Homo sapiens: one gene and its partners. The protein of the gene in region 7 purifies or fractionates together with the protein of the main gene of each other region. This does not show direct contact. Each region holds a gene or a part of one and is shown on either strand. Other genes may lie near its edges. The genes, in order: RAB11FIP2, WWC2, BRAF, FNIP1, TBC1D1, SPIRE1 and CREB3L2.

The links.
Region 1: the proteins of CREB3L2 (region 7) and RAB11FIP2 purify together in Homo sapiens (co-immunoprecipitation; one large-scale study listed by IntAct). This does not show direct contact.
Region 2: the proteins of CREB3L2 (region 7) and WWC2 purify together in Homo sapiens (co-immunoprecipitation; one large-scale study listed by IntAct). This does not show direct contact.
Region 3: the proteins of CREB3L2 (region 7) and BRAF purify together in Homo sapiens (co-immunoprecipitation; one large-scale study listed by IntAct). This does not show direct contact.
Region 4: the proteins of CREB3L2 (region 7) and FNIP1 purify together in Homo sapiens (co-immunoprecipitation; one large-scale study listed by IntAct). This does not show direct contact.
Region 5: the proteins of CREB3L2 (region 7) and TBC1D1 purify together in Homo sapiens (co-immunoprecipitation; one large-scale study listed by IntAct). This does not show direct contact.
Region 6: the proteins of CREB3L2 (region 7) and SPIRE1 purify together in Homo sapiens (co-immunoprecipitation; one large-scale study listed by IntAct). This does not show direct contact.

The regions. Positions count from the first base shown.
Region 1 is NC_000010.11:118,039,743-118,044,174, reverse strand, and holds part of RAB11FIP2 (rab11 family-interacting protein 2), read left to right. Parts: intron 1-3,609; coding exon 3,610-4,052; intron 4,053-4,432. UniProt on the Homo sapiens protein: A Rab11 effector binding preferentially phosphatidylinositol 3,4,5-trisphosphate (PtdInsP3) and phosphatidic acid (PA) and acting in the regulation of the transport of vesicles from the endosomal recycling compartment (ERC) to the plasma membrane.
Region 2 is NC_000004.12:183,266,325-183,270,756, reverse strand, and holds part of WWC2 (protein WWC2), read right to left. Parts: intron 1,787-4,432; coding exon 1,594-1,786; intron 763-1,593; coding exon of another isoform or gene 715-762; exon of another isoform or gene 710-714; intron 1-709. UniProt on the Homo sapiens protein: Regulator of the Hippo signaling pathway, also known as the Salvador-Warts-Hippo (SWH) pathway.
Region 3 is NC_000007.14:140,914,244-140,918,675, forward strand, and holds part of BRAF (serine/threonine-protein kinase B-raf), read right to left. Parts: intron 1-4,432. UniProt on the Homo sapiens protein: Protein kinase involved in the transduction of mitogenic signals from the cell membrane to the nucleus. Phosphorylates MAP2K1, and thereby activates the MAP kinase signal transduction pathway. Phosphorylates PFKFB2.
Region 4 is NC_000005.10:131,706,167-131,710,598, reverse strand, and holds part of FNIP1 (folliculin-interacting protein 1), read left to right. Parts: coding exon 1-21; intron 22-1,326; coding exon 1,327-1,398; intron 1,399-4,052; coding exon 4,053-4,188; intron 4,189-4,432. UniProt on the Homo sapiens protein: Binding partner of the GTPase-activating protein FLCN: involved in the cellular response to amino acid availability by regulating the non-canonical mTORC1 signaling cascade controlling the MiT/TFE factors TFEB and TFE3.
Region 5 is NC_000004.12:38,135,167-38,139,598, reverse strand, and holds the end of TBC1D1 (TBC1 domain family member 1), read right to left. Parts: intron 2,465-4,432; coding exon 2,264-2,464; 3' UTR 426-2,263; downstream 1-425. UniProt on the Homo sapiens protein: May act as a GTPase-activating protein for Rab family protein(s). May play a role in the cell cycle and differentiation of various tissues.
Region 6 is NC_000018.10:12,458,401-12,462,832, reverse strand, and holds part of SPIRE1 (protein spire homolog 1), read left to right. Parts: intron 1-2,904; coding exon of another isoform or gene 2,905-3,078; intron 3,079-4,432.
Region 7 is NC_000007.14:137,883,235-137,887,666, forward strand, and holds part of CREB3L2 (cyclic AMP-responsive element-binding protein 3-like protein 2), read right to left. Parts: intron 2,269-4,432; coding exon 2,169-2,268; intron 1,888-2,168; coding exon 1,761-1,887; intron 1-1,760. UniProt on the Homo sapiens protein: Transcription factor involved in unfolded protein response (UPR).

The DNA of each region.
Region 1 (4,432 bases), on a different chromosome or scaffold from region 7:
CTTGTTTTACTCCTAGTCCTGGGCAACATCACAGTTACAATACATTTGGTGTGAGCAATACTCTAATATTATGGTCTCTCCTTATAGAAATTCTCTACTGGCTATTATATAAAATTGATTAGAACTTTAGGGGTAAAATGCTTTTAAATGTTATCAACAGGGTTTGTGATGTTATTGCATTCAAAGTGATTTTCATATATTGCTAAACCCTTAACATTTTATTTGTGGATAAATGGGGACCATGTATTTGATGAGATATCTTTATTGGTAATATTTCTAGTTTTTTAATATATTTAATAGCTTCCTTTTCTAGCACAGCTGTACCTGTGGCCCAGTAAGAGACAGACTTGAGCCGCCGGTATATTTCAAGGAAGATATTTAATATTCTGCACATTGCTAAACTTTTTCAGCATATTCCCAAGTGCTTTTTAGAAAACTGTTTCGAGTGATGAGGACTACCAGCTAACTTAGATGTCCTATGAAACTGCTGGGTGTGACACTTTTTACATTTTGACACTGAAGACATATATTTACAGCTTGTCTTCCAGTTGTGTCATGATAGATAAAGAAGTATGACAACTAAAATTATTACTTTACTTATTTTCTTACCTTGAAAATATATGTCTTTTTTCTCTCTTAAGGAATGGGGAAAAAGGGTCTGAGCCAGAACCCTTTGAGTGGGCCTGGGAAGAGAACTTCTGTATCTCCTCCTTTAGAGGATGTCTGGGTTGGTTCTGGCATGAGATTTAAAGAAATAATACAATGTTTAGTAATAGAATGTTAAAATCATTGATGCTGTTGTGTAATATCCATTGATTTTTTACAATAGAAGTAGGTGATGTTGACTTTTTTTTTTAATGCTCATGAAAAGTAATAACAACCAGAGTCTGTAGAGTTAGATGTGACTCAGACATATGCAGATTTTAGGACGTGTGTGTGTCTCAGCGGTGCACCTGTGTCCTGGCCTCTGGCACCCTTACTGCCAATTTTGTCCCATTTCTGACCACACAGCACCAATTGCTTGGGAATAGTTCCCATATGTGTGCTGGTTTTTGAACATGGACCTGTGCCCACTAAAAATTGAACAGAGGCCATGTACAGTTTAAATCCAGTACTCCAGAGGTGAAAAAAAGTCAGCTAATCCAGTAAGCTCCAAATGCTGTGTCTTCGTTTTATCTTTCTGAAGACTGGAAAAACAAATGCTATCTCTGAAATGATTCTTGAAGATCTCATTAAGACTTCCCTATTATGTCATTTTCAAAACAAAGCAACTAAAGTTATTTGTCATTGCTACATTTTCAATGAGTATATTTGTAAAAGTTCTTTGCAGTTTTTTTTGGGGGGTGGGGAATGGACATTATAGTGTATTTACAGTTTGTAGTCAAATACTGATTTGCTTTATTCAGGTTTACATAGGTCTTTACAGTTTCCTACTAAAAAAACAAGACAATGTAAACACATACACACACACACACAGTTGTAGCTTACTTGTAAGAATATAGTTCTAGAAATAAAAATTGAATAAACATTTAATGCAAGGCAGACTGCCTTCCAGGAGCTTATACTCTAGCAGTAGAAAATTTGCATTGTCTTTCTCTTCAGCTCTCATGTCTCCTTATTAAATACAGTGTCCTGCAGTATGTGCCAGCCATGTGGTTAACCTTATTAACATATGTGGTTCATCAAATAAGAAAGAGCTTCTATTTTCCTGCAGATGTTATTCATCAACTTTAGATTTTTTTCTTTATTGACTTTAATCTGACATTGGGAAGTTACATATCATTCCTTGTGCCTCAATTTCCTCATCTATGAAATAAAGATGTTAAAGTAGATGATTTATTGGTCTTATCTCTAAAAGTCTGTGAATTTCCACTACCCCCACCCCCTTCCATTTTGGGGGTAATTAATTTTTTTTTACTCATATTTGCTTTGATTTGTTACATACGTGCTCGTTTTTGTTTGCAAATTTTTGGTACATTTTTTGCAAAGTATATTCACCTACATTCTATAAAGCCTGAGGTACTACAGAGTATTTCTGAGCTACTGTTCGTCAGATGTGTTTCTCTCCCTATTGAAAATAGCTCTGTTTTCCAAAACTTTGAGTTAACTGGGTATATAATCTGCTTCATTTCCAGGCTTTTTGAGTGCTCAATTGTATGTTATTTAAGGTTGTCTATTTCACAGAAATCGCTGTCATTTCTTATTTCTAGCCCCTGTTTCTTCAGATTTTACCATTTGCCTTATATAAGGGATTTTCTCAGTTTAAGGTCTCAGGCTAATAGTATTTTAAAATATTGATATTCTAAGAAATGGCTAGTTTTGATGCAACTATATCTGAATTGATTGAATAGCTCCAATTTAGTTAATCAAGAAAATATTTTTCTTCCATGTTACGTGCAAAGATGTAGCTGGTATTTATATCATGTGCCAGTATTTCAACTTGATATACAGTAAATGTAATCTTCTCTTGGCATATCCAGTTGGTAACAATGAGAGAAAGAACTAATGTAAAATTAGATCAGAGTTCCTTTGTAGCTAAGAAAATTTGTTACACTCGATTAGAGCTATATTTAAATAATAACCTGTGTGCAGGAATGGATATTATGCCTCATTGCTAAGTTATGTGAAAACATTGTAGAAACTCTTTCAGGCTTGATTTTGTAGTTTTTTTTGGCTGTTTTCCCATAGAATGACCACTTGTGACATGGCCAACTGGAGAATTTCTCATGGATAAAAATACTATAAAACCAAAATATTGCTTCTTGTATATCATTTAAATACAGATAGTGCCATACATTGAAGGGACTAAAACGTAAGATTTGGCTTCATTTTCAAAATAATTTTTATTTGGTATTGTCACAGTAGCAATAGTAAAATGAAGCAAATAGATTCAAACAAGAAGCATTTTAGGTTTTTTTTTTTCCTTTTGAAAACTTCACAAGATTTATTTTTTGTCACTTCTTGCATTTTACTTATTTTTTGCATATTTTATTCAGGAGTAGGCTTTGATTCATTTTATGTCAATCTAAATGACATCATATGCTGTTTTAATGATTAGCAAGCTATATGCAATGATCTCCAATGTTAACAAAATTCTTTTGCTACTTTTACGTAAGTAATATTTTGGGATGGGGCCAGGTATTTATTATTGTATTAAAATGTCATGAGATTCATTTTATAATGCTCAAAAATAATTTGTATTGGTGAATTCTTTCAAAATCTCTGCCTCAATGTCTTTTAATGTTAAAAAAAAATGTCCTTAGGCCGTGAGCAACACTTAATCCCATATGGAAAACTTCTAGCATTGATAAGAATTTTTGATGATGAGTGATTTTCAAATTACAAAAGAAAAGATTATCTGAAAACATTTTCAAACTTGCCAAAGACCTATTCATTCCTTCAGTATATGTTACATCACAGAGACAATGATCAGTTTTTTAAACTAAATAATAAGTAAAGCCCGAAATACTGTGGCTGACAGATTCTTATTCAGAGCTTAGGTTGCCTTGATGTATAGTTACTTTACCTAAAAGGCTATTTGTATGTAACAGAACTCAGTATCCTCTCTCTATTATGTGTTACAGCCAATTTTTTTTTCTTCTCTTTAAGGTGGTTTAGATTAGAATCCAAACAAGGAAAACGAATCAAAAACAGGGGTGAGATAAAGGTCAATATTCAGTTTATGAGGAACAATATGACCGCAAGTATGTTTGACTTATCAATGAAGGACAAAACCAGATCTCCTTTTGCAAAGTTAAAAGATAAGATGAAGGGTAGAAAAAATGATGGAACATTTTCTGATACGTCTTCTGCAATCATTCCAAGTACTCACATGCCCGATGCCAATAGTGAATTTTCAAGTGGTGAAATACAGATGAAATCCAAACCAAAAAAGCCTTTTCTCTTGGGTCCTCAGCGACTCTCGTCAGCGCATTCAATGTCTGATTTATCTGGGTCCCATATGTCTTCTGAGAAACTGAAGGCTGGCACCATAGGTCAAACACATCTTCTCGGACACCAGTTAGATTCCTTTGGAACAGTTCCAGAAAGTGGTAAGTGTCACATTCTTGTGTACTCATTGGTCTGAACTACCCTTTTAGTTTTTAAAGTTTAATTTCTAAATTTAGTAAATCAAAATAGCAGTTGCTTTGTAGTATTTTCCAAATTTTGTCATTCATCAAATATTGAGTACCTACTATACCTCAAATTGGTAAGTTCCTTGAAGGCAGAGCTTGTCTGCATTTGTATTTATATTATTAGATGATAATAAAATGAGTGCCAGTTTCCTTTTATGGCTTGGCTGCCTGTTTTACTGCTGTTTCTGCTATCTCAAAACCCTGAGCATAAATGAATGTTCCATTTCATCATAAAGTCCTTAGAAGAAAACTTTTATGTTCAGAAGTAAGAAAGTAAATTTAATGCTAATGAAAAA
Region 2 (4,432 bases), on a different chromosome or scaffold from region 7:
AGTCTTGCTCTGACTCCCAGGCTGAAGTGCAGTGGTGTGATCTCAGCTCACTGCAACCTCCACCTCCTGGGTTCAAGCGATTCTCCTACCTCAGCCTCCTGAATAGCTGGGATTACAGGTGCGCACCACAACACCCAGCTAATTTTTGTATTTTTAGTAGAGACAGGGTTTCACCATGTTGGCCAGGCTGGTCTCGAACTCCTGACCTCAGGTGATCTGCCTGCCTCGGCCTCCCAAAGTGCTAGGATTACAGGCATGACCCACCACACCCGGCCTCATAGTACTTCTTATAATATGCTGTAAAGGTGACTTACTCACAAACAACCCATTATCCACTGAAAAAAAAATAAAAACTCCACTTTGGTTCTTGAATAAGACATCAAAAAGCAACAGTTTTCTTTAGATACATAAGTTAGTAGAATGGCAAAAAAAGTAAAGGATAAAGGCTTTCCATATTCCACCAAATCACACATAGACAAAATCTAAATTCAATTACACTCTTCTTTAAGGCTATCAATATAATATTTATGAACTTTGTGGGAGCCTCTGACATCTATTATACTAAATATGACATCTATGATACTAAAGCCTTTCTGATAGCCTAACGAGTCTGTTAGCTCTGCTTCTTTCTAACTTTATTGTCAGACAATATCATCAGATATTTTTTTCAAGTAAAGAAAACAAGAAGAAAAATTAAGAAGAAACCTACCCCTCTTAAACTTTGTTCATCATGAAACATGTGTTTCTGTGCTTCCCACTGGACTGCAGAGAAAAGCTCAATTGGAGACTCACATTGTTTTCTGAACACATGGCACATCTCTAGATGCCTGCATTTGAATACTTATGTAACTTTACTGGGACATAATGGTTTTCTGGTTATTACGCACAACAGTGTATTAAACTCACAATTAGTTAACTGTGAAGTCTTCTGCTGTAGCATTTAAATGTCATATTGCTTTAAACAGTAACATCACATCTTCCCGAAAGCTCCAATACTGTGGTGGAGGAGAATGAGGTGAATAAGGGTACTATATAGTACTCAGTGGTCTTGCTTAATTTTAATTTGTAACAGTGAATTATGTAATTATGTGGGGATATCTTTTTGATATCTGGCTTCATCGCTTACTAGTTGTATGACCGTTGAATATATTACCTCTCTAAGCAGCTCCTTATCTGAAAATAGTGGATAATCATCCATTTCATAACCAATCTTTCATCAGGTTGTCATGAGGATTAAATGAGATAATATATACACAGCAGTCACGCAAAGCTTGGCATTGGTACTGGGAGTGGTAAGCACACTCCATGAGTGATAGCTGTCACAAAGGTAAAGTTCTTCTGTGGTGAAAAGGTAGAAATAGAAAGCAACTTTTACAGAAAATCACAATTTATAAGCAGATTTTAAAGGTCTGGAATAAGAGAATAAACAGAAACCACTACTTCAGAAAAAAATGAACAAACACTAGATGTATCCCAAGATGTTGGGCAGGTCTGTAGTGATTTCTAGGGCTGGCAAAATAGCAACTACAAAGTATATCCTCAGACCACCCAATCTAAGTGCTATTTGGTAATGGGAATTATGAAGAATCCTACCAGGCATTCTTCCCTTCGGTGTTTACTGACAGAGCAAAGGTCTACCCTCAGTGTCTTCTGTTGTAAGGCTGTTTGGGAAATGGCGACTCTGAACACATCATTGAATAAAATGGATTCTGTGGGCGGATGAACTTTTGTGCGAAACAGACAGCTGACATCAGTTGAGGAAGGAAGAACGGCAACCCTAAAATATCTGCAAAGAACAAGAATAAAATGGATTTCATAGGTACTTTAATTATACCAGATTCACAGCTATCATTTGAAATTATCTGCAAAGAGAGAAAATGAGGGATCGTGGAGTTCAAGATCAATCTAAAGTGTTGCTGCCATCACGGGTCCGTGCTCAGCTGCATAGATGCTCTGTCCTTAACCCACCCGAGCTGACTACGCCCCTGAGCATGCAATGGCCCAGCCTCCACTCACCACGAGACTGCAGCAAAGGCACATGATAGGAAAGTGAAGAGGAAGAAAATCCGTAGGGCAGACGAATTTAACGTCCCACCTGCCCCATGGACAGCCAATTCCAAAATAAGTTATTTCTGAGCCTGGGAAGGTGGGAACACACTAAGTAGATACTGGTGACTTTATCTCACAGAATCCTCATCCTGAGTATTAAACAAGAGATGCTGATGATCACCTCCCAGGAATGGAATACATTATCCTACTAGAGAAAAAGAAAGGCTCAGTAGCATATTGTTAAGAAAATTTAAAACAGATGAAACAACGGTTCAAAAATATCACTGTCTAGCATCTCCAAATTCTGAGATACGACAAACTGTTTTAAGAGTCCCGTGCTTTGTAAAATTCAGAGGAAGAGTTATAGAAAAACAATAACTTCTAATACTACCTTAAAGTGACTCTTCTGAGCACACATTGTATGAGGACCCACAATTCTTAGAAAGAGCGTGAGGTAACTTCCTTTAAATCCCAGGAAGAGAATACCGCTAAGTCTATCCCCTCCACCCCCATTTCCAGGCTTGTCTAATCTAGATTCTAAAACATGCCTTTCTCCGTTAGAAAAACTGTAATTCAAATGCAGAACTGAGGAATGTCATATTATTTTGTATTTCATATCAATATTAATTATGGAGATTCAGCAATGAAAACCTAGTGGGCCTGAAGCCCACTGCTGTTGATTAAAGAGCCTTACTAAGACACAGCTCACTGTCCCTGGGAGGCCGAAGATTCAGCAGAAGAAAATCTTTTCTGCTTGTCACAATTAATAATCAAAAAATAACTTTTGAGGTTGGGAAAAAAAAGAACAATTTTAAGAATATTTCATACTAGCTGTCATGTTTAGCAGTGTCATTATTTAGGCCAAGGCTTTTACATGTGGGTTTAAGGAAAGATTGCTATATATGTCAGGAAGGTTCGCACCAACTCAACAAGTGCCTGCACATTAGCTGGGGAGCCGAAGAGCAAATGTCTGCTCATTGGTTGGGCTGAGTATTTCACTGGTCCTACACTACGCAGGTATCACCATGCCTCCAGAAGGGACTTGGTGACATCCTATGAGGTAAGTGAGAATGACTGTGATTGGTTTAGTTGAAGTAGAGCATATTGCAGGTGCACCCTTACAGTGAGTTTAAAGAAGGTGTGTGTTCTTGGGGTGTTCTGTAGTTTTCTCCTGAAGTTGTGCATTAGTTCTCACTGTTTATTGTTTCAGTCTCTGGTAGACTTGTCTTCTCCATGATTTGCTTTACTAAAAGGCCACCAATGGCATGCTCCAACATCACAGCTTATCTACTGGTAGGGAGAAGTCACAGTTTATATCAAGCCAGTCTTCCTGGACACCGCTGACTGGTGTTTTTCATCTCGCATTTGGGAAGCAGGCTCTCTGCGTTGATCTAGGCACTTCTATGTGATGCCTGCTCTCCTCACTGGTCTCACTAATGATGTGGACAGTCCACACTTTGATTCAGGAAGTTCTCTAAGCTCACCCTCCTCCTGGAATCCTATCCTACCTCCAGCTTTGATGCTTGTCAACACATTAAAATCTACTATCTTGGCTGGGCTCGGTGGCTCACGCCTGTAATCCCAGCACTTTGGGAGACCAAGGTGGGAGAGCCCAGGGAGTTCAAGACCAGCCTGGGCAACCCAGTGAGACCCCATCTCTTAAAAAAAAAAAAAGAAAGCCACTATCTCTATTCTTCTATTGTCAACTACATAATTTCTATCTAGTTCTTTTTCTCTTAGATCCAGTTTCTTCTTTCTGATGATTATTGGAATGTTAGGAGGTGAACTTACAAGCAACTCTGTAGGAAAAACATGCAGAACTCTTTAATTTATTCTATTAAAAGTCTTATCACTAAGGAATATACTCTATCATTAAGGAAAACATTCACCTGGCTGGGTATAGAGTCTTGGGGATCACCCCTCAACAGCTCTTTTTAAATTTCCAAAGCCTTGCACTGCATATTCAAAATATTATTAAGATCCACTTCTTACAGGAAGTTTCAATGCAGAGTGGACATGCATATTCCGGATTCTACGTCATAGTGCTAAGTCGAAGTCTGGATTCTTCCTGGTACTTTCCAGCCATGAGCCCTTCAGAGTCACTGAAACTCTGATGTCAGAAAATGTGAATGGTGGTGTCTAAGACTTCCAGACTTATTTGTCATGAGATCTTTAGGCTTATCTGTCAGGAAGCAAAAAGTCTCTAAGCAATGGACTGTGTAGCATTATGTCATCACTTTGTTGGGATTCTTGGTTTGATGAAGTGAAATAACTTTAAGAACTCACTGGTCACAGGGAAGTAAATGCTTGATGATAAAAACATACTCTTACATGTAGCATGATAAAATGTTTGACTGGCAATGTTGTACAGATACATAAAATT
Region 3 (4,432 bases), 3.0 Mb from region 7:
CCTACTAGAAGTTCAGTGCATACCATAAGGAGGGGGAGGAGGATCAAGAGATGCCAGTGAAAGGCAAGCATTCAACTGAGTTCTCATGTATAATGAAACTTATTTGAGATTGTGTGACTTACTGTTAGTATGAGAAGGCATGTGCAGGAAGAATATGAGTGGAATATCATCAGTGTTAGAGGCAATCCTGCAAAAACTAAAGGGAGATGAACATTTTCTGTGGCTCTAGAATAGGAATATAAAGACCACTCTGAATCATAATCTCTTCCCTATTTGATGTTCTCTGACACTATTCCCATGGAAGTATATATTAATGTGTGTAAAACAAAAAAGTTCTGAGTTAATTAGGAGTAATTATCAATAGTACTTTATCTTTTTATGGTAAAAAAAAGTTATAAAGGCAATAACTGCTTGCTAGTCACAGAAAAGATGGGATATTTTTATGATGGGAATTAAGTCACCTCCATAAAACATTACCAGAAATTACGCTAACAAGAGCTCTATAAAAATAATCAGCCAGGCACGGTGGCTCATGCCTGTAATCCCAGCACTTTGGGAGGCTGAGGCGGACGGATCATGAGGTCAGGAGATCGAGACCATCCTAGCTAACATGGTGAAATCCCATCTCTACCAAAAATACAAAAAAATTAGCCGGGCATGGTGGCATGCGCCTGTAGTGCCAGCTACTCTGGAGGCTGAGGCAGGAGAATCACTTGAACCCGGGGGGGGGGGGGGGCGGAGGTTGCAATGAGCCGAGATCACACCACTGCACTCCAGCATGGATGATAGAGCGAGACTCCGTCTCCAAAAAAAAAAAAAAAAAAAAACCATACCTACTTAAGACTTAATTACAATTTTATGGCTGACACCAATAATCCCCTTTAATATTAAAAATACATCTATAAGCCAAAATAGAAATTTATTTTGCAAAATAAATGGTACAAGGTAAAAAATACAGTTTAAAAATATCAAGTCAATTGAGAAACAACCCCAAGCAGTACATTAAACTGTTTAAAATATGCCAAAATAAGTGACTAATTCAAAGTATCCTAACATTTTATTTCAATTAAGCAGTTCTAAAACTATAAAGTAAAAATTTTCTGGTGTTATTAACTTAAAGGTTACATATTTAGTGCAAGAAAAAATATAAAACAAAAGTATTCCCCAACTTAAATATAATTAAAGTATCTTTTTTTTTTTTTTTGACACGGAGTTTCCCTCACTCTTGTTGCCCAGGCTGGAGTGCAATGGCGCAATATCGGCTCACTGCAACCTCCGCCTCCCAGGTTCAAGCAATTCTCCTGCCTCAGCCTCCCAAGTAGCTGGGATTACAGACATGCGCCACCATGCCCGGCTAATTTTTTGCATTTTTAGTAGAGACGGAGTGTCTCCATGTTGGTCAGGTTGGTCTCGAACTCCTGACCTCAGGTGATCCACCCATCCTGGCCTCCCAAAGTGCTGGGATTACAGGCATGAGCCACCGTGACCAGCCTAATTAAAGTATCTTTTAAAGATATCCACACTTCTTTACTTTTTAAAAACAGATTAATTTTGGAACAATAGTTAAAAATAGTCTGCCAAGATATTGTATTACTCTCTCCCTGGAAGTGTAGTTTCAAAATCGGCAAGGTGATGCTGGGTGCGGTGGCTCATGCCTGTAATCCCAGCACTCTGGGAAGGACTGCTTGAGCCCAGGATTTCGAGACTAGCCTGAGCAACACAGCATCTCTACCAAAACAAACAAACAAACAAACAAAAAAAACCCAAGGATTTTTTTTAAAAACTCTGCAAGGTGACCCAACAAAACTGGAACGATACTCCTTGCAACATGGTCAAAACTTAGTCAGTTTCTACCTTCGCAATTGTCACCTGACCCTCTACTAGTCAGGTATTCCACACTTCCTCTCTAGAAACATGTGTTTCCTGTTATTTTGTTTTTAAATTATTAAATGAAAATCATGATGAGAAACATCATTTTACACTGTAGGGATAATTCCCTGGGCTAACCAGTAAAAAGCTATCAGTGCAGTTTAAAACAAAGTAAAGGGGCCCTATAGGCCCCACTGAAAAAGGTAGAAATATGACCAACTACTACCATATGCCTTTCCTTAGAAGAAACATAATGATTTAATGATGCCCCTAAGATTCATAAAGATACTAACTCTGAAATATCACAGAACATGACATAGGTTTCAAATGGAAGAACTCTTCTAATGAAGATGGAGAATAACACATTGTAAACTAGTATCTTTCACAACCTAATTGACACTTTCGGTGACTTTTTTTGGTGAATAAACATCTTAACATATTCATTTTCCCCTATACACATTTTGATTACACCTCATAATGCAACACGGTAAAAAGGACGTGATTGACTTTTCTGTGCAACCTACTAAAATATGTCCTTTCTTATAAGGAAATTAATTTTGGTTGCAACTTTTACCTGTCACTTTTCATGAACCTCACCACCACATAATTCAAGACAGAGATATATTAACTATATACTGAAGTCTTAAGTATTTGGGGGTAGAAGACACCTTTGAAAACCTGAATAAAATTATGAGTCTTCTCCTTCCAAAAGTATGGTAACAAGAAATTAAAAAGTCAAAGTTCTAAAAATCTTCTCAACTGGACCTACCTGATTTTAAATTTAACTATAAAGCTATCATAACTAAGGTAGTGGGGTATTAGCCTAAGAAAACACACACAGATCAATAAAACAGTAGAATCCAAAACTCACAAACATAAGCAATTGATTTCAATAAAAGTGCCAAGGTGATTCAAAAGAAATTTGATAAATGTGAAACAACTGGACATCCATATGTAAAATAATGAATGAACCTTAACCACTGCTTCACAATTGCTGGAGTGCAATGACGCGATCTCGGCTCACTACAACCTCCCTCTCCCGGGTTCAAGTGTTTCTCCTGCCTCAGCCTCCCAGGTAGCTGGGATTGCAGGTGCCCACCACCATGCTCGGCTAATTTTTGTATTTTTAGTAGAGAGGGGGTTTCACCATGTTGGCCAGGCCAGTCTCAAACTCCTGACCTCAGGTGATCTGCCCTCCTCAGCCTCCCAAAGTGCTGAAATTACAGGTGTGAGCCACCATGCCCGGCCCCACTGATATGACTTTTATATGACTCCATTTATATGACTTTCTGGAAAGGGCACAGAGATCAGACCAGTGTTTGCCAGGGGCTGAGGGTAGAAGATGAAACTGAGTGCAAAGAGGAACTAGGAGCTGGGCTTGGTGCATGCCTGTAGTCCTAGCTACTTGGGAGGCTGAGGCTGGAAGATTGCTTGAGCCCAGAGTTCAAGTCCAGCCTGGGCAATACAGTGAAACTCCACCTCTCTCTCCCTCTCAAATAAATCAATCTAGTTTTTACAAAAGCAATTATGAACTTTCTATAGACCTCTAACCTACATCTTACTTTGAGAACCTCAAATATAACATATATAGTCTCCCTTAGACCAGGAGTCAGAACAGTTCAGCCCATGAACTGGCCCACTATCTGCTTTTGTATAGCTCACAAGCTAAGAATACTTTTTACATGTTTAAGTGGTAGAAAAAAAATCAAAAGAAGATTTTCATGACACATGAAAATGATATGAAATTCAAATTTCAGTGTCCTGAAAATGACTACTGGAACAGAGTCAAACTCATTTGTTTAAATATTGTCTATTAGCTACTTCTGAGCTACTACAGTATTGTTGAGGAATTGTGAGAGGAACTGTATGTCCCACAATGCCTAAAATATTTGCCATCTGACCCTTAAGATTGCTGACCTCTGCCTTAAGACACAAGTTGTTGAAATTTTCTACACAGATGATACCTGAGAAGATTTATGCCAGCACAAACCTCTCTTCCATACATAGTAGCTCTAAAATTTTTACAGCCATAAAACCCTTTTTTCAAGGAAACTAACATGTAAAGCAGATAAATGAAGAACTTCAATAGTTATGGTATAGGGCAGCACTCCCCAACCTTTTTGGGACCAGTGACCAATTTCATGGAAGACAATTTTTCCATGGACAGGGGTAGAGGGGGTTTCAGGATGAAATTGTTCCACCTCAGATCATCAGGCATTAGATTCTCACAAGAAGCACACAATCTAGATCCCTCACATGCACAGTTTCTGATAGGGTTCACGCTCCTGCCGCTGATCTGACAGGAGGTGGAGCTTTGGCGGTAATGCTCACTTGCCTGCCACTCACCTCCTGCGGTGTAGTCAGGTTCCTAACAGGTCACGGACTGGTAGATACGAGGCTGTGGCCCAGGGGTTGGGGGCCCCTGGTATAGAGGCACTAAACAGAGCCCTGGGGTAACCTCTGAAGAAGGTCCTTGAAACCCCAAAACAGTGTTTTTCAAACTGCCTGTTGCAGCCAATTTGGCTGTCAATTTCATAAGGTGATTTTGTGACCGGCAGAAAAA
Region 4 (4,432 bases), on a different chromosome or scaffold from region 7:
GGAGCGCCTCTTTCTTTGCAGGTTTGCGATGTGCTGTGTGGGTAGACTAGTTGGTGTGCCCCAACGGCTAGAATCTGTAGTTAAGCTGTGGAAACAAGAGAGTAGATGAATGCAGTTGGTGAGGTTGTGGTTAAGAAAACATTGCATTAGGAAGTATAAAAACTTAATTCCTTTTCTACTGAACATGTTCTTAAAGTTTCCAGACACCGGATTATCAGTAGAATTGACATTTTTATGAAATTTCAGTTTGTCATTTCTCTTGTGGCATAATGATTTTAACTTCAGAATCTGAAACCAAAACTTAATATGAACTTTATTTCTTATGATACCACTTGGAATTTTTAATGTGACACTGTCTTGTTTCCATGGCTGAGTAGCTTTTGTACCATAGTTCACCAATTGCAGAAAATTATCCTATCTTGTTATTATTGTAAAATTTCTGATCTACACTATTCCATAAGAGCAGTTTTTCTTGGAGCTAAGATTTAGATGAACAAGCACTACTATAATGCTCTGTAAAAGGCATATATGACTATATTTGCTTACATAATCAAGTTGATGATTGTAGAGTATGTTCATGTGTATATATCCAGGATTCTAATCATATTCCTTGTTTTCACACATTTTAGCGGATTACCTAACATTGTAACCTTTTAGTGGAAATTACTGGAATGTGAACACATTTACTCTTCATTGTTCTCAGATTGGTATCAATTTAGCCCTTCTTGTTTTGATTAATATTTTCTTTCCCTGTAAATATTAGATATAAAAAATATATATTTGTAGAAAACTTGGAAAACACTTTTAAAAGGCAAAAATATATATTAGCCATTTTATCAGCCAGAAATACCTGCTTTTTTGTTTTTTAAAGAAAATGGGGATCATACTATTCAAATAAATATCTCAATTTATTATAGAGAATTTTGAAACATACATTGTTATAGGCAGAAACAGTACAGTGAACTATGATATACCCACCACTTGGTCCCAGCAAGCACTCATACTGTTCAGTAGCTTGCTTTTTTTCATTTAATAGTATATTATAAATATGTCACTGAATATGCTTCCAAAATATGACTTTTAGTCACTCCTTGCTTCTTTAGATATTATGTTTTAGATTCTTATACTGTGTATCAAATCTTCACAGAGCTCTCAAAGCTTGTTCAACTGAGTAATAGCTCTTGGTGTTGGGTTGGTGCCATGCTATTGAAAAAAATAAGGGAATGCAATGAGATGAGCATGATTTCGTTTGCTATTTAAAAGGAGCTGTTCATCCACCTGAATAGCAATATATTTTATAACTGACAGTTTCATCTTTATTTATAGTTCACAGCAACCCAATGGACATGCCTGGAAGAGAGCTCAATGAGGACAGAGACAGTGGCATAGCACGGTCTGGTAATGTCACGTTCTTGTATTCAGTTTTTTATGAGATTACTGTTGGCATTGATTTTCTTTTTTATCCCTCCCTTTATTATCAAATTTGTTCATATTGATATTAGCCTTACAAGAGAACTGTGAAAAGACCAGAGCAAAGTCTTATAAATTTAATATTTTTCATGTTTACTTTTAAGTGTGCTAAGTAGGATAAAGCCAGGATGAAGTAAAGCCAGAGTAAAGTACACTGGTTGAAGCTTAGTGAATATAAGAAGAAAAGCATTGGTCAGAAAAACTGCTTAGAAACTGTAGTAAAAAAAAAACACGTTTGCTTATATTTGCTTGCTGCTAACTAAAGTTTAAATTGTCATATTGTCTCTTGCCCAGAAAAGCATAGGCATTTTGAATCAATGTTATACTTTTTTTTTTTTTCCAAATATGGACCTGTCCAAAATTTGTAGGTCTAGCAAACATTTATTGAAACATGGTGGACATTAAAAAAATTAAAGCCCAGAGTCTGCCCTTACGGAACACAGATGTATGGAGTCTACTGGGAGAAAAATTAGGAAAATCATCTGTCATAGGTCATTGTGTGATGCATTTAGTGATAGGCCTGCGCAAAAAGCTTCAGCGAAAGAGCACCACACTTAGCCTGGGCAAGGGGCAGGGATGCCAACAATGCTTTACAGAAGGATGATGATTGAGTTGTATTTTGAGAAATAAATAGCAGTTATCCAGGCAAAAGCTCAGAAAAGCATTTTAGCTAAAAGGAAAAGTGTTTGTTGGGGCCCAGAGAGCAGCATAAGTAAAAGGAGGAGTAATTTTAGGCTTGAATTACTGTTAGATATGAGAAACTTAATTCAGTGTGATAGCATGTGTTGTTACATTATATGGCTCTGCTATCGAAATTGTTTTGTAATTCAGTTTTGAGTATAAATGAAAAATCTAAACTTGCTGTATATTGCAATCCCTAGGTATGTATTAGAATAACAAAGAGAAGTTTTATAAAAAATTCAAGTGCCTGAACTCTACTTTCAAAGACTCTCGTGTAACCTAGAGAAGGTATCTCTAGGCATCTGTATTTGTGAAACAAAACAAAATGCAAAACCTAACACTTGATTCTAATGGATAGCTAGGGTTGCCGACCACTACTCTAATAAGAGTAGCTTGTGTTTTTCAAGTAATCTCATCTTTCTTTTCTAATTGAGTTTCTTATTTTTGTTTTAAAGAATCTAGAGTTTATTTCTTTTAATAAACTTTGCTTCGATGTAATCTAGATATTTAGTCTTCCCTGGCAGGAATTTAATTCTCATTATTTTATTTAAGATTTAAGTATAATTTATTTATACTTACATTCTTTGTAAGTTGAAGCATCTGGCTAGACTGATCTGTTAGGCTGCTTCAAGTTATTGGATTCATATATGCCATTTAAGTTAATGTGTGTTTTCTTTTTTTTCTAATAGGGTTATTTTTAATATTAGAATGCAGTGAAATGTATTTTTTCCAAACTTAGGACAGCATTTTATTTTTCACTGAAGTCATACCCAGATTTAGTTGTACATACCCAATCTTGGACTACAAGAGTTTATAATACTAATTGATAAAATGTGGTCTGCATTTAGAATCTGCATTCTAAAGTAATTTAGAATGAGTTCATTGATGGTCTACATGTTTGCATGGCACATACAGCTTTATCCTCTATCATTGAATTTGTCAGAATTCAAATGAATAGATCTTCATAATGAAAGTGTCTCAGTTTTTAGTGCTGGTGTCCAAAATAATTTATCATCTGGCCTGTACCTTTTTAATAGTGATGATAATGGTTCCCTGTTTTGAATATACATTTTCAGTATGTGCTTATGATCATGAAAGATAGAAGTCTGGAATATTGCCAAACAAAAGCAAGCCCTTAATGGCAAGTGTTATCCTCTCTAAATCCAGTGGGGAAAAGCCTGATGAAAATCTCCTAGCCTAATGAAAAATCAGCAGTTGTAGCTCTTAACACCTCAAGCAATAAACATATCTTACAGATTTCACAGAAGTGTTTCGGGAAGGGAATAATCCATCCCCAAGATCAGGGGATTGCAGCCGTGAAAGAGTGGAGTCTGCTGGAATGTGTTTGTCACCTTAGATGCTCCAGGGAGCATTCTTTTTTTGGAGCTTAGTAGGTATAGTCATGATTCTTAATTAAAAGTGGTAGGTTTGACTACATGTGCACATGTGATCCATGAATACTTGTAAATGACCTCTTTAAATGCCATTCAGACACTTATTTTCAATAGCTTGTTCTTAAAATCCAGCTGCTGCATTAAGTTTGAATAGCATCAGATTTCCTTTAATTTAAGAACTAAAAGGATTCAACTGAGTTAGGGGACAGTCAATCCAGTGGCCAAAGGGATAATGCCTTGTTGCAAAGTATAATTTTCTTCTGGAGTCCCTAGAGGGGAATGCCAAAAGGGGATTGTCTCAGAGTTTTTTGCTGATACATTGTTAATATATGATTTTTCTCCTCTGAGACCTTGCTACAAGAAGGATGTGTTCTTTTAATGAACATTTTTGAGGCTCATGAAGCAAAATAAAGTTTAACTTAACCTATTTGTAATTTTGTTAAAAAGAAATTTGTCATTATGCTTAGTCATTATTGACTTATACTTGTTGTTCTTCTGACTTAACAGCATCTCTCAGCAGCTTGCTGATCACTCCATTTCCTTCCCCAAACTCCTCACTTACCCGAAGTTGTGCCAGCAGCTACCAGCGACGTTGGCGACGCAGCCAAACAACAAGTTTGGAAAATGGGGTATTTCCTAGATGGTAAGTTGGAACTTTAAACACAGAACAAGATTGAGTAGTTCCTTAAACACAATTTTATATGGGTTTTTTAGAACCTGGACTTGTATTCTGTGTATTTTAAGTTTGAAACTGAAAACTTTTAAAATTTACTACATTTTTAAAATTGTGGTAAGTTATACATAACAAGTTACAATTTTAACCATTTTTAGGTGTACAGTTCAGTGACATTTGTTTAAATACCTTCATATTGTTGTGCAACCATCAT
Region 5 (4,432 bases), on a different chromosome or scaffold from region 7:
ATGAGTGTTGGGGGAAATATAACCCAAAACATGGCTTAAAAATTTGGCTCTGAGAATCCTCACACAGTTGCCTCTCCGCTCCTTGCCTAGTCAGTCACAGGCTGAGACTGTCCAACCTACATCCACAGGCTCATGTCAACAGTCCTTTCTGCCCAACCCAATCTCGTAACAGGACTCACTGCCACATACAATGATGGAGCTGGTCTCATCAGTGCTAAACTCACACCCTGTGTAGAGGTGTTACAACTTACGTAATAAACACTCAGATAACAACACTGGATGCAGACACCAATATCTCAAATAATCTCACTGATGGTTGGGTCATGACCACACGTAGGCCACAGGTGTTCATAAGGCATTCCTTTACTCCTGGGCTGAAAAGCAAAAATCCAAAGTTAAAAAAAAAAAAAAAACCACCATAAAAATGTGAGCATGAATTATTTCTTGTTTTATTGCTTTCTTGTTTCTTTCTTGATGCAGAGTCAATGTTTTTGAGTAACAGTAATAAGATGCCCAAAATCCAACAGTAAACATTCAAATAGTAAGATCTGATGCAGAACAAAGTCCTCAAATGTTAACTCCTATAAGTTACATCTAGCGGAACCACGAGGGATAAAGGCTGAACTCATCATCTTGGTTTATGATGGAAACCGCTATCCTCTGACCCAGGGAACAGGAGGAAGTCTCGAATGCCAGCCACCTGTTTAGGCACTGGTGGCAGCACTGTGGTCTCCTCGTGAAATGGCCGGGGAGACTCACAGTGAGTCTAAGTATGGCAATCTCTCCTTTTACCCCAGGATTAAGAGATGCCCCCCGCAACTGAGAGAATCAAAAGAAACTCCTATGGAATAGAAGACGTGGTTACAGTGATAAAGATCAGAAATGATTGTGTTGTCAAGGAAGTGACCTGTGACTGCACAGAACCCCATCTTTGTGAGAAAGCAACCCACTCTTAAGTGCACATCAGAGAGGCTTTACACAGTGACTGGCTGCAAGCAGGACAACCGTGAGCAGCATTTTGCTTGTTGAAGGCACAGGTCCTCGTCATCCTGAGAGAGGAGAGTCACTGTGTGCGACCTCTGAAAAACTGTCAGCTGTCATAAATCTGACTGCAGTTTCAGCCTGATCTTTTTTTTTTGAAAGTCCCAGACTCTTGGGGCACCCCTGAATATCTTGATGTGCCTACTCCTTCTGCAAGAAGTCAGATTTCCAAGGGATGGAGACTCAAAGGAACATGATTGCATTACATCACACAACAGGCAAAAATAAATACATGACTCTATAGTATGGGTATGAAACTACCACAAAGAAATATCTCAGACCCCACAACTGCAGCTCACATGCTAGCAATACCTGGTAGGGTCTAAAAGGTGTCAGCTGTCCCATAAAGCATTTACCTACTATGACTTTGATCAACTGTACTTATGGGATAAGCAAAAATGTATGAAAACACTCTATTTTTTTTTTAAAGACAAACTTCCTTAAATACCAAAGAGAGAGATCCATTTCACTTGACAGTGATCAGGATATCCAAATTAAATAAATCATTTTATTTAATTTGATGATCTTCAAATTCAATAAAGTGATCTTAAACATTCAAATAGTAAAATCTGATGTAGAACAAAGTCCTCAAATGTTAACTCCTTTAAGTTACATCTAGTGGAACCACGAGGGATAAAGGCTGAACTCATCATCTTGGTTTATGATGGAAACCGCTATCCTCTGAGCCAGGGATCAATGACCCAAGATCACTGATCTTCCCAATGATCATCTTAGGTTTCCATAACAAGAATGGGCGAGAGCCAACTGCACCTTGCCAGGGACGCTGAGGGTGTAGTCGCCACACAAACCCTCTCGGAAGAACGATGGACCCACGCCTTTGCCTGAGGCATGATCTCGAGCTCTTCCAGCTTTTGAAATTCCACCGTATTGTGAATGCTCTTTACAAACACAGTGACACTCAAAAAGGAACCAACAAGAAAACATAAGTTGCATTTATTCACGTCCACGCCATCTAAAGCTACTGTGTACAGTAATCAGGACTGGAGAAGGGACGATTTAGTATCTAAAAACAACAAAAAAAACACTGGGACATGCCCCCTGAATTGCAAGTTGGAGTTCGTAAGAATCTACTTGCTGGCAAGCCGGTTTCCTCCCTGAGAAGCACACTTCCCGCTTCCTTCTCTCCTTCCAGCGTCTTCTGTCCCTCTCAGTTAAGGCCTGGACAGTGTGGGATGGTGTTGCAATCTCTCCTGCAGAGCTGTCAGTCGCCCGTGGGCTCGGGCTGCGTGCACTCAGGCTCCCGGTCGCTGGGCTCTGCGCTCCGCCGCCGCAGCTCCTCCACCGTCTGCAGCAGGGCCGACCGCTCCAGTTCTAAGGTAAGCATGGCCTGCTTCAGCTTGCTCTCACTGCTCAGGAGCTTCTCAATGGTGGCCTCAAGGCTTTGGATCCTACCATTTGCCACCTGGAGAATAAAAGAAGAAATGAGAATACAATTGCCAGTGCTAACACAGGTGGGATCCAGTGCCCACACGCTGTCCAGCCTTGGGAGCACTCTGGAGCCGAGTTTCAGCAGGGATGAGTCTACAGTTTATCATCAGTTCTGGCCACACAGGAAGGCAACTCGCACCCCTTGCAGGTCGGTGGCCAGGCCCTTAAAAGCACCCTGAGAGCCCCCAGCATTTTCTTCTCCTGCTATGGCTGCTGTGGAAGCCGATGCTGAGATGGTGGATCACAACACAGAGGGAACCCAAACCCCCAGGCACCACCACCAGAGGGACAGCTTGGATAGGGCCAAAGAATGCTTCAGCAACACAAAGCTGAAGTGGGCGTCAGTGACACAAAGACTTCCGTTGTGCCAAGCCTCGGAGACTTGTAAGTTTGTTACTGCAGCAGAGCCTGGCCTGTTTTGATGAGCACATATACTTAAACGCACAAATCGATTTCGGGCTGACAAAAACTCAAAACAGTTTCCTCCTGAAGGCCCACGTGGTAACAATCCTCTAATCTGAAATTCTTTACAAACACAATGATACTCAAAAAGAAACCAACAAGAAAACCTAAGTTGCATTTATTCACGTCCACGCCATCTAAAGCTACTGTGTAAAGTTAGTGATGTCTAGAGGAACAAGACATCACTACGTCAAGAAACACAGGCATTTACCCCGGAACACATATGGAGTCCTTAGAAAGGCCAAGTGTTCTGCTAAGAGGTTTATGTGCCTGGTCTCACTGACTGTTCACTACGAGCCATGGAGACAAGCAATATCCTCTCTTCCACCCTACAGAGGAGGAATGAGGATCTCACTCAGTCTACATCCTCAGCACCTAGCACATAATTAATGCTAGTTAAATAGAACTTCCAGGTGTATCTTTCTAGCAACTGTCCCTCGTCTCTCTAATTTGCTCTGGCAGGCTTGCTTCCCAGGTGACAAGTGTGTTAGCTCTAGTGACATTAAAGGGTTCCCTAAGAAAACTGCAGAAACTCCAACATGTATGCTGATGTCCCTGAGGCCTTTCTGACCTGTTCCCCAGCTCACAGCTGCATCCTGGAGTGCTCTGTGACTTGGTCTATCTCACTAATCCAGTCCAGATTTGCCATGCTCCATTTTAGGTGGGAAAAATGGTATATATATACACATATATACACACACACACACACACACACACACACATATACACACACACGTATATATACACACACACATATATACACACACACACACATATATATACACACACACATATATATATATTTTTCATTTTTCAAACAAAGAAAATACTTTTTTGAATGTGACAACACTTGTGCCAGAAAATTCATGACTCGAAGTCTAGCTCTGGCTGGGCCACTAGAACACCCAAAATATGAAAAAGGGACCAAGAGCCTTAGTTTGTCAGCCTACTGGGCAAGGGGTGGTCCCACTTGGGGTATCTCTCTAAGCTGTACTCTCTGATCCTCAAAATCCACCCATCGTCAGGGCCTGGCTCAGGGCCTACCCTCATCACTTTGAAGCCCCTCTGCATTCCGAGGTGCAACCTGCAGCTTAGTTAGTAGTGAATTAATTTGCATGGTCATTTGCTATTCTGCATTAATGTCAGGTCTCCTCAATAACACCGATGCTTTTATAGAAGCAAGCATGTCTTCTCTTTCACACATGGTCCTGTCTCCCACAGCACCTGGCTCAGTGTGGGCGTCAATGACTTGTACGGATTATGACAAATCCATGTGCATTATTATTTGGTTCCATCTGGCACGTCTATGCAATCGTCTGATGTACTGCTGAACAAAAGAGGTGGTAGAATTTGCTCTCCAGCGTCTAGACAACGTTCACATGTATTTAACAGGGAATGAAATGGGATTTTGATATTTCTAACAATTTTATGGACAGAATAAAGGTAGGAAATGGGTTGATTTTGGTATTTTGGCCCCCCC
Region 6 (4,432 bases), on a different chromosome or scaffold from region 7:
TGGTTGAAAGTATGGATTATTATTAAAGAAATGCTTTCTTTCTTTCAAAGGCTATTAATCCATTTAAAAATTGTTAAAAATTGACCAAAAAAACTCTTAGCAAAATGACTACAGTAGGTGATCTTATTGAGGCAGAAGTACAAGCGAGGGAGAATTTTGATCCATTAATAACTACTGTACATTGTTTTCTAGTATGTTTTGTGATATTTGGGGCCAGTGGTGTTATTTTGGTTGAACTGGTTTATAGTTTTTGCTGTTTTCCAGAGACTTGCAGGTTCTTATAGTGGGTGCTCATTTCTCAGGACAGTGGGCAGCACACAAGGGTTTGCCAGGAGGAATTAGTAGATCTCCCAGCCAACAGAGGTCTCCAAAGACTCTTTTGTAGCGCCACTTGGCTTCTGAAATATTTGTAGGCAAGATGCACAGCTGTAATTAATATTCTACCCACAGTCAAATATCTAATGTGTTTTCAAATATTCATGAATAAAAAATAATAGAATATATTGAATACTAAGTCCATTTTTTAAGGCTGTGATGAATTATTAGAGTTTCAATTAAAGTAATAACAGATGGGAGATAATGCGATTATTGTGAAGACAGGGATTTTGAACAGAGCTTAGAATGTTAATATTTGGTCATTCATCTCTATGCCAAAACAGTGCAATTAAAGAACTAATGATTTTATGGCGATTCCTGATAGGATTCTTCTAGCTCCAGAATAATCACCAAAACACAGCTATTCGATTAAATATAGCCTTGTCAGTGACTTACCAACAAGAAAACAGAACTCTGACCAGACAGATTCAAACGTAAAAATCTAAAAATTTGTTTTCATGTGAATAAGTTATTGCTTTTACCAAAATATACAGCTATTATCACAACTTTAAAATATGTAAGAGGGTCCAGGCACAGTGGCTCACACCTGTAATCCCAGCACTTTGGGAGGCCAAAGGAGGAGAATCGCCTGAGGCCAGAAGTTTGAGACCAGCCTGGGCAACTTAAGAAACCCCTGTCTGTACAAAATTTTTAATTAAAAACTTAGTTAGATGTGGTGGCGCATGCCCGTAATCCCAGCTACTCAGGATGCTGCAGAGGGAAGATCCCTTGAGCCTAGGAGTTTGATGCCACAGTGAACTAAGAATGTGCCACTCCACCCCAGCGTAGATGACACAGCAAGACCCTGTCTCTAAAAATATATATACACACATATGTGTATGTGTGTGTATATGTGTGTGTATGTATGTATATACATATGTATGTACATACATATACACGCATGTATGTATATACATATGTACGTACATACCACACATATGTATGTACGTACATATGTACGTGCATACACACATATGTATGTACGTACATATGTACATACATACACACATGTATGTATATACATACATACACACACACACACATACATGTGTATAGGTAAGAGGGAACTTGTGGTTTTTTTCATAAGTCTAATCATTAGGGTATTCTCTTCTTCACTCAGCTTTTCCTAGAAGCCAGTCTATCATTCAGCTTGTAACTGGCCTTTATGTGATCATACAATGTCATTATTGAGGTTAGACTTAAAGTTTAAAATTAGCAATGTAAAGGAACTATCAGCTTAGCTACAAGGTAGTTTCAGCTTATAATAGAAGTTATGCTGAGACCTTCAGCTGACCCCAAGGGCCCATGACTGTGTCTGTTTCCTGTTAAAGCAGAGCTCTTAGTGTTGCGAGGTCAGGCCGTGCACTGTTTTTTTGTGGAGCAGGAAGGAGAGCAAGATAAACTAACTTGCAATCACTGAGGAAGGTCTCAGTGAGCAGGCAGTGGGAGAGCCGCTCTGCTCAGCACTGAACAGTGGTCAGATTGAGGGCAGGGAGCAGAGTCCACGCAGGCCTCCAAGCACCAGCAGAGACGAAATGATCTTCCTTGCTAATAGCTTATCTTGGGAAATCCATAAAATCATACCTTGTAGTAATGCCCTATAGCTTGGTAAGTATTGTTTTTATAAGTGTAATTAATTTTTAAATGTAGCTGCATTTTAGAAAACAAAGAATCATTTTGTATTTGTAACTCCTCAACTGAAAATGGCAGGAATGTTTTTATTGTTGATAATTTTTTTTTTTTTTGAGATGGAGTTCCGCTCTTGTTGCGCAGGCTGGAGTGCAATGGCTCAATCTCGATTCACCACAACCTCCGCCTCCCGGATTGAAGCGATTCTCCTGCCTCAGCCTCCCAAGTAGTTGGGATTATAGGCATGTGCCACCACACCCGGCTAATTTTGTATACTTAGGAGAGACGGGGTTTCTCCATGTTGGTCAGGCTGGTCTCGAACTCCTGACCTCAGGTGATCTGCCCGCCTCGGCCTCCCAAAGTGCTGAGATTACAGGCGTGAGCCACTGTGCCCGGCTGATAATTTTTATTTTTGTTGTATCTCCCTCCCTTTTCTTGTGATGTTTAAAATGTCATTTTTTTTCATCATTTGGTCAAATAACCGAGGGCAAATGCCCATCCAGTCTAAAGGCACCTCGTGTTGGCAGTACCTTCCTGGGGCAGGTGCAAGTGGCTGCCTGGCACATGTCCCCATGCTTTCTCAGGCACAGTAACGAGTTGCCTCTATCCTTCATCACAACAAGCCCCACTGAGGAAACTCAGAGTGTTTGCAGGACCCTAAATTAGAAAAATCCTTGCTGTGTGAACGCTGAGATTCTCCAGGAAGGACTTCGTGGTTTCATCACTGATTTATACGTGTGGATGCAGATGTTCGCACGGACTGTACCAGCCTCATGGTGTTTTTTGTTTTGTTTTCCTTTTGTGATCTGTAATCACTATGTGTAGGTCACTTGTGTTCAGCATTATTTTCTCCTTTTCTTTTCCCCCTGCCATTTTCTTTTTCCCTTATCTGTTGTTCAGGTTCCTAGGATAACCAGTGTATGGCCAAGGACGCCTTTTCGACCACTTTTTTCTACCATACAAACAGCTTCTCTGCTCAGCTCTCATCCTTTTGAAGCAGCCATGTTTGGGGTAGCAGGGGCTATGTATTATCTGTGTGAGAGAGCTTTTACCAGCAGGTGGAAATCCTCAAAGGTTGGCCTCTTTCTGCTGGGTCTGGGATTATTTCATTCTCTGTATCTCTGACGGTGACACCTCAACTGTTGCGTTCTCTGAGAATTAACCGCTTAGATAGCACTTTGCTTCCAATCATTGATTCCACCCTTGTGCAGGATGCACCGATCATGCCGTGGTCTCAGTTGAGGGAAATAACTGGGAAAGGACAACAAACTCAAAATGCAGCATCTGATGAAGGGGACCTGTGGGTGTTTGTCTCCTCGGGTGACCTAATTGTATAGCAGAGTCAGTGCTGCCACCTTTCTCCATGTGCAGCAGGCACTCTGAGCCCGTGGGGTGCATTCCTCCTAGGGCCTCCCCCCACCATCAGAAGAGTATTTGCTCACTCATTCCGTGAGCAGAGCATCCTCCTGCCAGGCCAGGTAGCCATGGTGGACTCCGCCCACCCACAGACACCTGCACAACCAGGGCATGGGCTCAGGAAACCTGTGTGCTCCCATCACCTGTCATGAAGCTGTGTTATGACAACCAGGGTGTGTACGTCACTTCTCTGCAAAGAGAAATTTCAAGTTTCCTTTTTAATGATGTGGCTATTTTAAATAATTCTGCATTATATTACTGTTTTTTGAGGTTTTTTTACACAGAATAATATATCATTATTTGAACCTTCACAATTCTACGTGAAATAAAAAGCTCTACGACCATATTGAAGCCTCTTCTGCCACCACGTAGCAGGTGCTCAGAGCAGCCTTTGTGCTACAGTAGGCAGGGCCTGGCTCTCTAAAGCCTTGGATTTACTAACCTTGTCCTTGACAGATGACCCCGCAGCTGGTTTCTTTGTTACTCTTTCTTAGTCATCTTGATATGGAAAGGAGACTCAATGTAAATAAGACACAAAACATTCCTTTCTCTGATCTTTGTCATGAAATGCAGGAAAAACCTCTGTCCTTTTTCCCGTTTTAGATGTGCTCTTGGGCAGCACGTGGTCAGGTGCCACGGTGGCTTTTTAACTCCTGTCACTCCTGCCTCTACTGAAGACCTGCTGGCATTTGATTATCAATTCTCCCCAAACAGAGATATCTGAACACTAAGGCCATATACCACTTTAGGCAAAGAAAGGATTCACTTTGAGTTTTGTTTGTTTGTTTTTGTTTTTTTTGAGATGGAGTCTCTCTCTGTCACTCAGGCTGGAGTGCAGTGACGCGATATCGGCTCACTGCAAGCTCCGCCTCCTGGGTTCACGCCATTCTCCTGCCTTAGCCTCCCGAGTAGCTGGGACTCCAGGCATCTGCCACCACGCCCGGCTAATTTTTTTTTGTATTTTTAGTAGAGACGGGGTTTCACCATGTTAGCCAGGATGGTCTCCATCTCC
Region 7 (4,432 bases):
CACTGAAATTATTTAATTGGAATGCTAGCACTTCTGTCATACCTGGCAGAGACACACCTGCCTGGTGAAGACCACAGACGTTTCAAGATGGCAAAATTTTCCCTATCCCAAATCCAGTACAGTAGTCCTCCCTTATCCATGGGGAATACATTTCAAGACCCCCAGTGGACGGCTGAAACCGAAGATAGAACTGAACCCTATATATATGGTATAAGGTATATATGTATGGGAAAAACCATACAGGGTTTATATATGGGCATATAGCATGTAGGGTTCATATGCCTTTTCCTATACATATGTACTTATGATAAAGTTTGATTTAGAAATTAGGCCCAGTAAGAAATTAACAATAATAATAAAATAGAACAATTCTAACCATATCTTCTAATAAAAGTTACATGAATGTGGCCTCTCTCTCTCAAAATTTCTTATGGTGGTGTACTCAGCTATTTTCAGATAACTGCAGGTATTTTTATTGGCTGCAGGTAGTGTTTCTTACTATAGTGTATTCAGCTATTTTAAGGTAACTGCAGGTATGTTCATTGGCTACAGGTAACTGAAAGCTTAGAATACAAAACCTCAGATAAGGGGGGACTACTGTACTGCCTAACCCCATGCTCATTCCTATAGGTGTAGGTGTGAATTTGTGTGTGTATTCCTTACTCACCATCCCTTTATTTCTAGGTGAGAACACCATACGCTTCTTATCTGACACCGGAGTCCCCATATTCTCTAGATCTTGGGCATAAGGTTTTGGAAGGCAGGCTGATTCTTTTTGTTTGTTTGTTTGAGATGGAGTCTTGCTCTGCCGCCCAGGCTGGGGTGCAGTGGCACGATCTCGGCTCACTGCAACCTCCGCCTCCCAGGTTCACGCCACTCTCCTGCCTCAGCCTCCCAAGTAGCTGGGACTATAGGTGCATGCACCACCATGCCCAGCTAATTTTTGTATTTTTAGTAGAGACGGGGTTTCAGCATATTGGCCAGGCTGGTCTTGAACTCCTCACCTTGCTGATTCTTTTTTTTTTTTTTTTTGATGGAGTCTCGCTCTGTCGTCTAGGCTGGAGTGCAGTGGTGCGATCTCGGCTCACTGCAAACTCCGCCTCCCAGGTTCACAATATTCTCCTGCCTCAGCCTCCCCAGTAGCTGGGACTACAGGTACCTGCCACCACGCCCGGCTAATTTTTTTGTATTTTTTAGTGGCGATGGGGTTTCACAGTGTTAGCCAGGATAGTCTCAATCTCCTGACCTCGTGATCTGCCCGCCTCGGCCTCCCAAAGTGCTGGGGTTACAGGCGTGAGCCACCACGCCCGGCCCTGACCTTGCTGTTTATTTAATTTCACTTTACAAGCCCTTACTATATACATTGCATTACATTACTCATACAATTCCACTCAGTGGAGGCAGAAACACAGCAGTTCTCTTAAAACGTCACAGAAAGCGACAGACTCTTTCCCTCATCTGCTTCCCTCTCCCTTATCAGAACTCAAAAATTAGATGTCAGAATGGATCAGGGAACACAGTCTAGAACAGCAGTTTGCAAACTGTGCTCTGTCAAGCTCTGGAGAATTCCCAGTGATGCCGCAGTCCAGTGGATGAGGGGCCCCAGGGGAACCCCCACTTGCCTCTTCAAAGGGAGAAGCTCCACTTTTACCACTTTTTAAACATTGGACTTTCACAGAAGATTCCTTTTGGAAGACTGAGAAACCCAGCTCTAGGGAAATAAAACAAGACCCTGCCCAACTTGCCACATGCTGTCTTACCCACGGAGGCTGTGTAGGGCTCCTGCAGGGAATGCTGGCTGGGCAGAGCCATCTTGGTGGCAGAAGGATAGGGCCCGTAGCCTTGAAAGAAGCTGCCGAATGCAACGGCAAAGCACAGCACCACAACCTGTGGGAGAGAAAGAGGGGAGAGAGAACACGAGGGGCTGTGGACTTCAGCCTCTGGACAGCACAGCTTTATACCCAGGGACACAGACTCTCCTCTTCAGGCCAGTGGACTGCACCCACCAGTCACATCACCAGAGTGCCTCACCGAGGAACAGCCTCAGAGTGGAGTTCCTCCATGTGGTTTCTCCTACAGCACAGCACTTGGCCTTGGCAAGTGGAGGGAGAGGGGAGACAGGGGCCAGGCCAGGGGCGGTCACTGTGCTACCCTGCTGGGAAGCTCACCATGAGGCAGGTGCCAGTCTGCGTGCCAGCTAACTTGCAGGTTCGAGAAACCTTGCCCATCACCAAAGTCTGAAGCTTCTGGAGTTGCTGAAGGAGAGTCCTGCCAATGATAACAACAGCCGTGAGGGGAGTCTGACAGAGAAGAGATGCTTTTTGATCTCTCCATGTGACCCAAGAAGGCCGCCGTGCCTTTGTGCCTGCATTTCAACAGAGCCCCAAGGGACAGTTTCCTCTGGAAGAAGATACGAACACCAGTACCTTCTAGCACCATTGTCACAGAGCTCACTGGGGCTCAGAATCAGCCTTCACACTTGAAAGTCCTGTTCTTGCACTGCCCTGAGTTAGAGGTAACTGCCTCCACATTACCCCTGACAGGCTGTGGCTTGTTTCTCAGCGATTGAGAACAAAGGAAAAGGAACACTCTGATTGGATGGTGGCTAAAGTCAGAATGGTTGTGTCTCTCCTAAATTCCTATGCTAAAACCCAGTCCTCTATGTGACGGTATTAGGATGCAGCACCTTTGGGAGATGATTAAGTCATAAATGGAGCCCTCATTGATGGGATTCGTGCCCTTATAAGGAGCTGAAAAGACTAGAGTGCTTCCCTTCCACTATGAGAGGACACAGCAAGAAGCTGCTTTTTGTGAACCAGAAAGCAGGCCCTCGCCCAACACGGAATCTCCCAACACTTTTATCTTGGACTTCCCAGCCTCCAGAACTGTAAGAGATCAATTTCTGTTGTTTGTAAGTGACCTCGTTTATTACATTTTGTTATAGCAACCTGAACAGACTAAGAAAATGTCGATTAAAAGAAGAACTCATTTAAGCAAGAGATGAGAAACATTGACAAAAACATAAAAAAGGGACAAAGGCAAAGAGAAGGAAAAATAAAAAATGACCAGCAGAGAACAACAGAAGGAGTGGCCAGAGGTGGGGGCTGTGACTGGAAATGCCAACAGAGAGTAACAGGCATTCACAGGCAGGTTAGAAGAGAGAGAGAAAGGCCAGAGGTGGGGGCTGTGACTGGAAATGCCAACACAGAGTAACAGGCATTCACAGGCAGGTTAGAAGAGAGAGAGAGAAAGGAGAGGAAAAACAAGAACGGCTCTGTTTAAGGCAGAGAGGCAAACAGCCACCTGCAGCTCAAGCCTGTGGTTCTTAAACGCTCACAGCACCTCCAGAGTCAGGAAACGAAGCCAACATATGAAAGAACAAAGATGCCTGCTCAACTGGACCCTCAAGCCCAGAGTCAAGGGTCTTTAAAACCATCCTTTGAAACAGATTCTAGCCTTTCTCCAGGAAAAAGACAAGAGAGCAAGAGCAGAAAAAAAAAAAGGAGACGTTTTATCCCTAAAATTGGACAACTGTGCCTCTCCTTAAAAGGCAAAGTTTGAGGGATAAGAACAGTCTTATATACTCTGCTCTGTGTGACATCAGCACACAGAGCAGATGGTAAAATTCTTTGCAAATTCTGAACACTGCAAGGCATAGAAAAGGATCTGACAACACACCCTCCTGAGTTAGAGCACCCGGGAAGAGTTCCCTGTGAGTGGTGTAAAGAGTTGAAGCTCCTCCTCATCCTCATCCCCCACCCCCAAACCCAGTGCATATGGCAAAGTGGAAAGATTTTATGAGCAGATGCTTTCTCTTGGGTCTCAAGGATTCTCGGAAAATGTGTGCTGTGATGTAACAATGTTAGACAGCCACATAAGTTCACTGGAAAACATCATCAAATCATTTGTTCACAGAATGCTGTGGGCTTTCGCAGATAACTTGCTTCTCACCACAGTCTACCCCCGAATAGCATTCAGGTGCTAGAAGGACAAGCAGATTTTTCCTGGGCTTACATCTTCACCCCCAGCTAGTACCAATGAAACAAGTTCTCCCAATTTGAGCAAATTAAGGACAGGTTGGCCACAAGAATGATTTTGCTTTCAGCAGTTTAAATGGATAGGAGTGGTGGGTGAATTGGAGCAGCCCTCAGCACACAGAGTAGATGCTTTCTGGACTCAAAACTCCTTTCTGGGCCAGGCGCGGTGGCTCACGCCTGTAATCCCAACACTTTGGGAGGCCAAGGTGGCCAGATCACGAGGTCAGGAGTTCGAGACCAGCCTGGCCAACATAGTAAAACCCTCATCTCTACTAAAAATACAAAAAATTAGCTGGGCACGGTGGCGGGCGTCTGTAATCCCAGTTACTCGGGAGGCTGAGGCAGGAGAATCGCTTGAACCCAGGAGGCAGAGGTTGTAGTAAGCTGGGATTGCA